Linked DNA regions of Homo sapiens: all the other regions are linked to region 4. The links come from fine-mapping of genetic effects on plasma protein levels. A gene starts in region 4. Each other region holds a variant in brackets. All regions are shown on one strand. Distances are between the middles of the regions. Region 1 has its middle 18 kb from the start of CHIT1. Region 2 overlaps CHIT1 (chitinase 1). Region 3 has its middle 2.7 kb from the start of CHI3L1. Region 4 holds the start of CHIT1 (chitinase 1).

What was found. PIP is the posterior inclusion probability: the model's chance that the variant is causal. Protein levels are from antibody-based Olink assays in UK Biobank. Linkage for the fine-mapping came from a reference panel and not from the study's own genotypes, which makes the PIPs less certain.
Region 1: its variant is fine-mapped to the plasma level of the CHIT1 protein (UK Biobank, PIP above 0.99).
Region 2: its variant is fine-mapped to the plasma level of the CHIT1 protein (UK Biobank, PIP above 0.99).
Region 3: its variant is fine-mapped to the plasma level of the CHIT1 protein (UK Biobank, PIP above 0.99).

The regions. Positions count from the first base shown.
Region 1 is chr1:203,210,089-203,212,772 of GRCh38, forward strand. No RefSeq gene overlaps it. Among named protein-coding and RNA genes, the nearest start is that of CHIT1, 18 kb to the right of the region's middle. The variant C/T (reference allele first, on the strand shown) is at 1,401.
Region 2 is chr1:203,214,105-203,216,762 of GRCh38, forward strand. CHIT1 (chitinase 1) reads right to left here. Exons shown (of 11, transcript NM_003465.3): 11 at 1,975-2,658. Among named protein-coding and RNA genes, the nearest start is that of CHIT1, 14 kb to the right of the region's middle. RefSeq lists enhancers at 1,228-1,984, 1,985-2,658. The variant T/C (reference allele first, on the strand shown) is at 1,534.
Region 3 is chr1:203,188,073-203,190,756 of GRCh38, forward strand. No RefSeq gene overlaps it. Among named protein-coding and RNA genes, the nearest start is that of CHI3L1, 2.7 kb to the left of the region's middle. The variant G/A (reference allele first, on the strand shown) is at 1,114.
Region 4 is chr1:203,228,194-203,230,877 of GRCh38, forward strand. It overlaps CHIT1 (chitinase 1), which reads right to left and starts at 1,480. Exons shown (of 11, transcript NM_003465.3): 1 at 1,419-1,480; 2 at 340-369. The coding sequence starts at 1,443.

The DNA of each region.
Region 1 (2,684 bases), 18 kb before region 4:
ACAACCCAATAGAAAAATGACAAGAGACACATTGGACTATTCACAAAAGACAAACACATATTGCTTATAGGTATAGGAAAAGATGCTGAAACTATAATGAGTAATTAGGACAATGCAAGTTGAAACTCTAACGGGATACCATTTTACATCTCTCAAACTGGTATAAAGTATGATATGGTAATGGTGAGGATGGGATACAAGAGAATTCTGCTGACGGGAGGGAAAAGTTACACAACCGCTTTGGGAAAACACGTTGCCTGCACCTGGTAAAATTGAACAAGCACATAATTCACATCCCATTAATTCTACTCCTAGGCATATTCTACACATATGCACTAGGAGACATCCTCAAGAGTGTTTATAGCAATATTGTCCACATTGGCCACAATCTAGAAACAACCCAAATGCCTGTTGACAGTGAAATATGTAAGTCATGGCATACTCTTATGATGGAATACTATACAGTAGTGAAAATGAGTTACAGTCATGTGGAGCATTGGGCCACAGAAGATACCATACAGTGTGATTCCATTTATGTAAGTTTCAAAACTAGTGCAAACTAAACAATTTTATTTAAAAATGCACACCTAGCTGGTAAAACTACAAGAAAAACAAGAAAAGGAATAACCAAAATCTAGTTAGAGGGCTATGGGATTAGGGAGGGGCACATCAGTCACTGTTCATCAGAGGCTGCTAATGTTGTTTCCTTACCTGGGTGAGGGATTCATAAGAGTTCCTGAACATATATGTTTTGAACACTATTTGGTATAATGTGGTATATTTTACAATGGAGACAAAATTAAAATGATAAAGAGTTTCAGCTCTCACTGCTCCAGGTAGGGTGTGATGGACAGTTTGGTCCCCGATCTGACCAGCCAAGGGGGGAGCCAAATTTGTCTGGGGTTCCAGCAGGTGTGTCAGATGTAACAATGAATGCTATGAGAGAGAAGAATACAGGGGCCTCTTCTTTATGGGTGAAGAGTGGTCATCACTGTTAAGGAAGGTGGCCAGACATTAGTGGGTTAAGCCACCAAAAAGTAAATAGCCCCAAATTCCTTTCAAACTGTATTGCTCAATGTCAAACACACTGTAACAGTTCAAGCAGTATTTGTGCCTGTCTTCAAAGGCCATGCAAGCTTACATGACCTAGTTTATAATTAAGGTGTGTGGGGCTGACAGGGCAGTCTGGTGGGAACAGAGAGAAAGTCTTGTTATAAAAAGTGGTATTTGCTTTGCAGTAGATGCTCAAACTTCATATGTCAGATTGTCTTGGGCAATGAGAGCAAGAAGTTCACCCTAGGTGGAGGCAATAAGAATGGCTTGTATGCAGAGAATTTTTAAAAAACAAGGATAAAGCCAGGCTTGGCCTGTTTTTTATTATCCCCATGAGCCTGCAGCTC[C/T]AAACAGCATCAGTCATGAAGTACCTGTACCTTCTCTCTGGGTTGATTTTTTGTTTTGTTTTGTTTTGTTTTTGAGATGGAGTCTCACTCTATCACCCAGGCTGGAGCGTGCAGTGGTGCAGTCTCGGCTCACTGCAACCTCCGCCTCCCGGTTTCAAGCGATTCTCCTGCCTCAGCTTCCTGAGTAGCTGGGATTACAGGTGCCTGCCACCATGCCCAGCTAATTTTTGTGTTTTTAGTAGAGACAAGGTTTCACCATGTTGGTAAGGCTGATCTTGAACTCCTGACCTCGTGATCTGCCCGCCTCAGCCTCCCAAAGTGCTGGGATTACAGGCGTGAGCCACTGCACCAACTGGGTTGATCTTTTGACCCTTGGTGCTAAGCTGATCCTGGAGACCCCCCACCAACAGTCCCACCAGCTGGAAACACCATGAGGGCAGGGTTCATTTCTGCATTTCCCTTAGGCCCTAGCACAGCTCCTGCCACATGGCAAGTGCTCAGGCAATGCTTATTGTTTTAAGCATCATTAAGATTTCATACTTAGGTAAACCATAAAATCAGATATTGTAGAGGACAAGAGCTGAGGCATGAAGGAGGGTGCACTGGGGAGAGCAACCAAAGACATGGGTGGGCCTGGGTCAGGCCCTGACTCCACTGCCGGCTTGACTTGGACACCGTGGTTTCTGCACCTGTGATCCCATGGGATTGACAGCAGAGATAAATGGACCTGAATATTAGTGTATGGCTGGACACAGAAGAAGTGCCCAATACTCATAACCTCTGAGGTCTAGACACCAAATAGCAGGGTAAGGAGATAAAAGAAATACATATGATTTTAACCTGGGGGAGGAAAGACAGCAGTGTTCTAGAAAGCAAACCTGGGCTCTGGGTCTCATCTAGACTGGCATCTAAATTGCAGTTTTAGGCCAGGCGTGGTGGCTCACGCCTGTAATCCCAGCACTTTGGGAAGCTGAGGTGGGCAGATCACTTGAGGTCAGGAGTTCGAGACCAGCCTGGCCAACATAGTGAAACCCCATCTCTACTAAAAATACCAAAAAATTTAGCTGGGTGTGGTGACATGCGCCTTTAATCCCAGCTACTTGGGAGGCTGAGGGACGAGAATCACTTGAACCCAGGAGACGGAGGCTGCAGTGAGCCAAGATTGCACCACTGCACTCCAGCCTGGGTGACAGAGTGACTCTGTCTCAATAATTAATTAATCAGCTAATTAATTGCAGCTTTGCCACATACTGCTTGTGTAACCCAAGGGAAACAGAAAATGAC
Region 2 (2,658 bases), 14 kb before region 4:
TTATGTGCACGTTTGTTCACTGTCTGCCTCCCCCAACAGAATGTTAGCCTCAGGAAAGTAAAGCCCCGGCTCTTGTCCCTGCTGTGTCCAGCTGGACACCAGGCCTGCATGGACACTTGGTGTGTGCTGAGAAACTCAGCAGCAGCAGGAAGACTCCAGCCACATGGGGCTTCAAGGCCAAGGTGGAGTCAAAGGAGACAATCTGGCTGGGAACAATGGCTTACACCTGTAATCCCAACAGTTTGGGAGGCCAAGGCAGGAGGATCACTTGAGCCCAGGAGTTGGAGACCAGCCTGTGTAACATGACAAAACCCTGCCTCTACATAAAATACAAAATTTAGCAGGGCATGGTGGTGTGTACCTGTAGTCCCAGCTACCTGGGAGGCTGAGGTGGGAGGATCAGCTGAGCCCAGGAGGTCAAGGCTGCAGTGAGCTGTGATCGTGCCTCTGCACTCCAGCCTGGGTGACAGAGAGAGACCTTGTCTCAAGCAAACAACAGCAACCCCGTCTCTACTAAAAATACAAAAATTAGCCTGGTGTGGTGGCAGGTGCCTGTAGTCCCAGCTCCTCGGGAGGCTGAAGCAGGAGAATCGCTTGAGCCCAGGAGGTGGAGGTTGTAGTAAGCCGAGATCACGCCACTGCACTCCAACCTGGGCAACAGAGCGAGACTCTGTCTCAAAAAAAAAGAAAAAAACCAAAACCCAAAAAACAAAAACCAAACAAACAAACAAAAAACAAAACAAAACAAAAACAAACAAAAAGAGATAATCTGAACACAAATAGCTTTTCGAGAACTCTCATTGTTTCTGTCCTAGACAGGATTCATTCAGAAAATGGCGTGGGCCTGAGCTAGCCGGGTGACAGAGGGCTGTGGGAGTCCCACATGAGGAGCTGGCATGATGGTTGAGGTTAATGCTGACATCAGGGGTACCCAGCAACTGAACTGGGGTGGGGACGGCAGGAGAAGTGACCGGAGAAGACACGAGGGCCTGATAAAGTGTCTCAACCCTGTGCTGATGGGTGGGGACTTTCTCCTTTGGGCAGGGGAAGCCTGTCACTTCCCTTGCTTAGTTTTTAAGCAGGGGAACTGACAGGCTTAGATCTCTATTTTAGAAAGATTAAACTGGTTGCGATGTGGTGGCTGACTGGAAGAGGGGGTGGGCAGGAAGCAGGGAGGCCAGATAGAAGGTGGGTCCAGATATGAGATGATGCTGGTTCTAGCTGAGGGAGTGGCCATGAGTTTGTAGAGGAGCAGGGTGGATGTGAAGACCAGAGAGAGGCTGTGGCTAATGCTTTCCTGAGGGTAACAGTAGTGCAGGTGTAAGACTGCGTACTCAGGGAGGACTTTGGTTATTTGGATGCTTGTAGGAGGGCGCATTCTGCTAAAAGGAGACTACAGTTTTTGCTAAATCCTTGACAAACCCAGCTCACAGAAGTTGAAGAAAGGGCTGAGAAGGGAAGAGGGAGGGAGGGAATGAGCACTGATCATAGGGCAGGCGTGCACGACTTCACTGACTCCTCACATTTCTTCCA[T/C]CCTACAGCAGAGGACTGAGGCTCTGCTTCTTTGCCTGAAGTCACACAGCTGGAGTGCAGCACGCCAGAAGTCACCCCTGCACCTGGACTCCACTCCTAACAGCTCGTTGGGATGTGGTTGGTGTATCCCTCAATTGAGACCTCAGGGGGCGGAGCACGTGCTCAAGCAGCTTGTGCTCTGGACTGAGGAGAGCAGGTTTCAAAATGCCCATGGACAGGCAGGCTGCCGGAGTGACGGGGACACTGTTCCTGCGCTCTGGTGCTGGGTTGACTCACATGGGGGGCCAAGCTGCCTCCCCCTCATCTCACCTGTCCCAGTCCCCAGCTGCCTTCCCAAGTCCCAACCAGAAACCAGCTTGGAGTGAATAACAGGCTGGACCATTAGGCTTTGTGCAGATTTTCTTCAAACAGAATGACCAAGGTGCAGCCCAAAGCAGCCAGGAATGTTGGGATGACTTTATTTAACCAGGACACCGTGTGCATGCTCTCTGGCCCATTTCAGGCCTTGGTTCTGGACTCAGAATTGGTTAGAATCAGTCTTCAGTTTAAATGCCTATAAAGTGAGAATAATCATTGTTCCTTCTTCATCTGGTGAACGGGGGCAGTAGGTGAGATAGGGCCTGCAAAGGGCCCAAACAGGATTTATCTCGAAGACCCCTGAGTACCAGGGGTCTGAATTCTTAGTGTAATGCTGAGTGGCTGCTCGCAGAGCGCTTAAATCAGGGAAAAGTTCTTCTCTGCTGCCATCTAGTGGCATTTTGGGAATAACACGTGCGTGAAGGTCCGCAGAAGCTCCTGTTTCCAGGCTTCTGAGCCAATAACCAAAGAACGTGTTGCACTTGGGGCCGCGCTCTGGCTGCCATCACCTGTGTACTGGAAACTGCCCACTGGCATATGGACTCATGGGGCAAGACCTGCCACAGGGCCTGGCACATCCTGCACGGACCACCTTCCCACCTGGCTCTGACCTGCGGATGTTTTGGAGTCAACAGTGTGCTTAGAGAGCCTCTTAAGTCACCACATCTTTGGGAAGAGGGGCACAAACCAAAGATTTATTTTGCAAGTGAAAGGGGCAGCCCAGGAGACCCAGAAAAAAGGAAGGCAAGGCTGAGAGCAGAAAGCCTG
Region 3 (2,684 bases), 40 kb before region 4:
CAGTCAATGATAGCTTCTTCTGGTTCATTTGGGGCACTGAGAGGAGGACTTCTAATTTCTAATAGTGATATTATGAAGTGGCATGCAGATGCAAAATTTTTCATCACAGAGCACAGGATGTTAAGAAAACACCTCCTATTTTCACTATCTCCCTTTGTTAAAAATTATTTCATAGGCTTAGATTGGCCCAAGCCTTGTTGTCCTATGCTCCCTCAAGCTCAGTTTATTAATTCCACATGCTCTGCCTGAAGGCAGCTTTGTAACAACAAATGGCCAAGATACCCCCAGGCCTGTGTTAGCAGGATTGGCCAAGGGTCTCATAGGCTCACCACCTCCCAGCCTTATCTCAGGCCATGACCCCCACCCTCCCTATATTCCACTCATGCTTATATGTCTTCTTTTAAATCCTTATATTTGCTCTACTGACTCCCGCCACAGGGCCTTTATATATGACATCCACTTGCCTGTAAATAACGATGAAAGATCTGAGATTTTATGCTACTTGCAAATTAATGACATAACTACAGTTTCGTGGATGTTGGCAGAAGACACGAGACTCCTAGGTCAGAGACAAAGGACTTTATTATCCATGGTACAGCAAGCAGCATGAACTTCATGTTAGGGTCAGTTCCCCTTAGCCCTCAGGTCTCACAAGGGCAGTGTTGGAGGAGCCCAGGTAGATGCCATGAATGCAATGAGTTACATCACAGCAGAGGAATCCCTAGTTTAAGGAACTCAAATCTTTCATGATGAGCAGTAAGCCTTCCTCACCTTGGCCAGCCCAAGATAAGGGAGACATTATCTTTATTACTGGACAGTAAACAAATCTGCCTTTTGGTCTGGAGGGGGGACGCTATTTCTATCTTCCAAGGCTGTTTGCTGTACAAACATCACTAAAAAGATTGCCTAGAACAAAGAAGCCAGTGCCTCTGCACATAAGCTGTGCAGGAAATGCAGGCAACCCATGGAGAATTGCGGTTGGAGAATTGCGGATGGAGAATTGCAGCCTAACACTGCTCTTCTTTGACTGCTTTATTCTTCCTCATCCTTCAGATTGCAGCTCAGGAGTCACCTTGTCTGCAGAAAAGGCAGTCTCCAGGTGACAGAAAACCC[G/A]CTATAGGGCTGTCAGAGCACTTTGTACCTCTCTCCTTAACACCTGACTCAGTTATAATTTTATATGTTGTGTGTGGCAGTGGATGTTTTGTTTGCCTCTCTCACTAGACTATAAACTCAGTAAAGGCAACGGCTGGGTCATTTTATCCACCTTTGTATCTATCCCCAGTGCTTGAGACATAGTAGATGCTCAGTAAAGTACTCGTTGAATAAATGAACAAATGATCTCAAAATGGTGCATAACTTCACACTCTTATGAGTTTAAACCCTGATGTTCTCAAAATTTCATCTCATTCAATAGTTTTTGTTACCCTGTGAAGAACTGACTCAGGAGGTGCCATAAAACCACAAAACAAGCTTCCTGACTTAATTTCCCTAATCAAACATTTCTAGGCCCCACAGTACATTGATAGTGTTCAACCAATGTTTATTAAGTAAGTGTACTAGAGTAGTTGCCTTCCACTGAGGTAGACAGTAGAGACAGAAAGGTGAATGGGAACAGAGAGGCAGTCCCTGTCCTCATGAAGCATACAGTCTGGCAAAGAAGATGGACATTAAACAAAGAAAAGCAAGTAATGTATTACGAAGGAAGGGCAGGTGTTAGTCTGCCCCTTGCCCACCGTCCCCTACACACAAAAAAAATTGTGCAAAAACCTGGAGCAGGAAGAGGTTGTTATGTTCAGGAACCAGAAGAATTCAAGAGTGGTTGAGGCATGGAATTAGCAGGAGGGAGCTCGAGGGAGGCACAAGATGAGTCTGGATCAGGAGCCAGAGGGTGGACATTACCACCATTCAGAAAACAAGCTCCTGGGAGCCTGGGCTGGCCCCTTGGGCACAGTGGTTTTGAGGATTCCTTCATTTTGCATGGCGTGTCAGAGCAAACAGAGGTGGTGTTGATGCCCCACCAAATGCTTGAGGAGAATTCTCTCTTTTACAAGTAGTCTCTTCCTCCAGAGGGTGGACTTCTGCCAGGCAGGAATTCAAATCATCTCCAAATCCTCAGCTCGGTGGTGGTGCTGGCGCACAGTAGAAGCTGTCGAAGACTCAGAGGCAGAAACACTTAGAGAAGAAAACAGTTGCTTGTGAAAAGCGGAAGCGAGTCAGATTTCAGAATGGCTGGCTCGTCAAATGCAAAATGCAACAAGTATTTGAAGGGGAAAAAAAAATGACCCAAGGTTATCACGTTTGGTGGAGATCAGCATCATTTTTACAACACATCTTCACTTATCAGCATAGCAAAAATCAGGGATGAAATTGTTTTTTTCGGGGAATTTTTTTTCTTTTTGAGACAGAGTCTCACTCTGTCACCCAGGCTGGAGTGCAGTGGCGTGATCTGGGCTCACTGCAGCTTCGACCTTCTGGGCTCAAGCCATCCTCCTGCCTCAGCCTCCCAAAGTGTTGGGATCAATGGCGTGTGCAACCACACCCAGCTGGGAATCCAAATTTATGGGAAATAGCCAAGGCTTATTATTTTGGTGTCTTAAACCACTCAGGATAACCTATTATTCTTGGCTTATCTCCAGATGCAAATTATTCCCATCCCCACCCCGCAGTGGTACTTGGTCATGAAT
Region 4 (2,684 bases):
CAATAATGAGAGGCAGTACTGTACTGTAAAACACACAGGTGCTGCAAGAGCACAGAGTGCAGAGGAGGGAGCCAGCAACCCCAGGAAAGGAAAGCCCTGAAAGAGGCTGATGCGCAAGCTGGCCCCACAGATGTGCAGGAGCTCAGCTAATGGATAAGGAGGCAAGAGCCTTCCTGGGAGGGCTGGTAGCAGATGGGGACATTTGCAGGGGTCTGAGCTTTGGAAGAGAGTCCCCACTGAAATCTGGAGCTCTTGGGGAGGTCTGGCAGGGAAGGTGTTTTGGGACATTAAGCAGAGCCCAGGGAAGGGGCTGAGGCAGCCAAGAAAGAGGCTACTTACCCCATGGGATCATCAGCAGGACCATGAAACCTGGAGCAACACAAGAGAGAAGGCCAGGGTTATGCTGCCATTCTCACCTTCCCAGGCCCCACAGCTTACGGAAGCACAGGAGGTGGTCAGGGAGGGCTGATTTCATACAAATCAAGCTTTCTCCTTTCAGAAGGGACCCAGGAGGGCACTGTGCCCATCCCTTCATGCAGACCAGACCACGGGGGTCTCTTCCTGGCCTGGGTTGGTCCTAGAAGCTGATGGAAAGTTCCATGGGCTGAGGCTGCCCCCTCTCTATACCTCAGTAAAGGGCAGTGTGGATTCAGGAAGATTGTGGAAAAACTGCTGACTTGTGAGTTATTTAGAGAGATAGTTTCTCTTTCGGAACAAGAAACAAGCCTGTTTTGGGGCTAGAAAGAATCAATCTGGAAGGGCTGCATGGAGAGAGTTCATCTCCTGGGGAGGGCCTGTGCCTCTGCTCCCATCGTTTATGGCTTCCTGTTGCCTTTCCGCTACCTGGCTGTGGTAGGCAACCACAGCCTTGGAGACCTAGGGTCTGACAGGACTCCTTCGAAGAGATCTCTTTCACCTGGTGACCTTGGACTTCTCTGTCAACCTAATAGAACCTCCATGAAAATTTGCAAGGATGCCCAGGATCTTGGCCCCAGGCTGCCCTCTTGCAGGACAGACAATATGAGGTTGGAGAAGAGGTTCTTGGCAGTGGGCGCTTCTTGGATAAGGCCAACAGGAGGGACCTAAGAACATGGGAAAGACACAAAGACCCAGTGCAGGGGCCTCATTGACTCTGGGCTTTCAGGACAGAGAGAGGAAAGTCAAGTCATCTTCAGCCTGTTGAGAAAAGCCTTCCCTTGCAACATGAAGTCTCTTGGGCTGAAAGAGCCTAAGGGGGAGCCCACAGGAAAGGTAATCAAGGGACTGCAAGCCAGGAGGCATGGAGAGGGATAAAATGACCCTCTGAAGTTCTCCTGAGTCCTCCTGCTTCCTTGCAAATGGTAGCAAGTGGTCCCTGAACATCCACATCCCCACCTCCCCACAGCTCCCGAGACCCAGCCCACTATCCGACGGCTCACCTGCCCAGGCCACAGACCGCACCATGATGCAGCTCAGCGGCAGGCTGCAGCCCATACAAACCAGCTTTCCAGGTCCTGCTCTGCTTTTATCTGGCCACCCTGTCCCACCCCAGCCAGGAGTGTTGCAATCAGGGGCACTGGGTGGGGGGGATGGGAGCAGGGTGGGGAGGGGTAAGATGTCAAGCAGCATGAATTGGGCAAACTTGACACAATGGCCTTTAGCAATTCTTGCTTTTCTGGAACAATCAGAGGGTGACTCTTAGTGTTGCCAAACAGAGGAAAGCGGGAAGTGGCCCTGAACCTCCTGATGGATGAGCATGACCCTGACTTTCTTTGTGTAGTTGGTGAGGACCATAAGCAGCCCCAGACTTAATAGGGCTTTGGAGGAAGAGAAATGACTCACGAGTCAGGCAGCTGGGTTCCAGACCAGCTCTCTTGCTTCTCCACTGCCCTCTCTCAAACTGTTTCTCCATCTAGAAGATAATGGGGTTGCAAATATAATTTACTTTTCATGATAGTAATAGTTGCATATCCATTGATGGAGAAAAATAGATAATGATAAATAGTGACTATAAGTTTGGTAATGGCTTGAAATGCCTATGTTTCTTATGAAGAATAATAATGGTGGACATTTGGGCCAGGCATGGTGGCTTACACATGTAATTCCAGCACTTTGAGAGGCCGAGGCAGGTAGATCACCTGAGATCAGGAGTTCGAGACCAGCCTAACCAACATGGAGAAACCCCATCTTTACTAAAAATACAAAATTAGCCTGGCATGGTGGCACATGCCTGTAATCCCAGTTACTCGGGAGGCTGAGGCAGGAGAATTGCTTGAACCCAGGAGGCGGAGGTTGTGGTGAGCCGAGATCGCGCCACTGCACTCCAGCCTGGGCAACAAGAGTGAAACTCCATCAAAAAAAAAAAAACAAAAAAAAAAAAACAGAAGAATGGTGGACATTTGTGTCGGTTTCCCAGAGCTTCTGTAACAAATGGCCACCAAACAGGTGATTTGAAACAACAGAAGTTTATTCTTTCACAGTTCTGGAGGTCAGAAGCCTGGAAACAAGGAGTTGGCAGGGCCATGCTTCCTCCGAAGGCTCCAGGGGCGAATACTTCCCAGCAGCTTCCAGCTTCGGATGGCCTGTGGCATTCCTGGGCATGCAACGGCATCGTTCCAGCCTCTGCCTGCCTCCATTTTTACACGCCCTTCCTCGCTGTGTCTCTGTATGTCCCCTCCTTTCTGTCTCTGAGAAGGACATTCTAA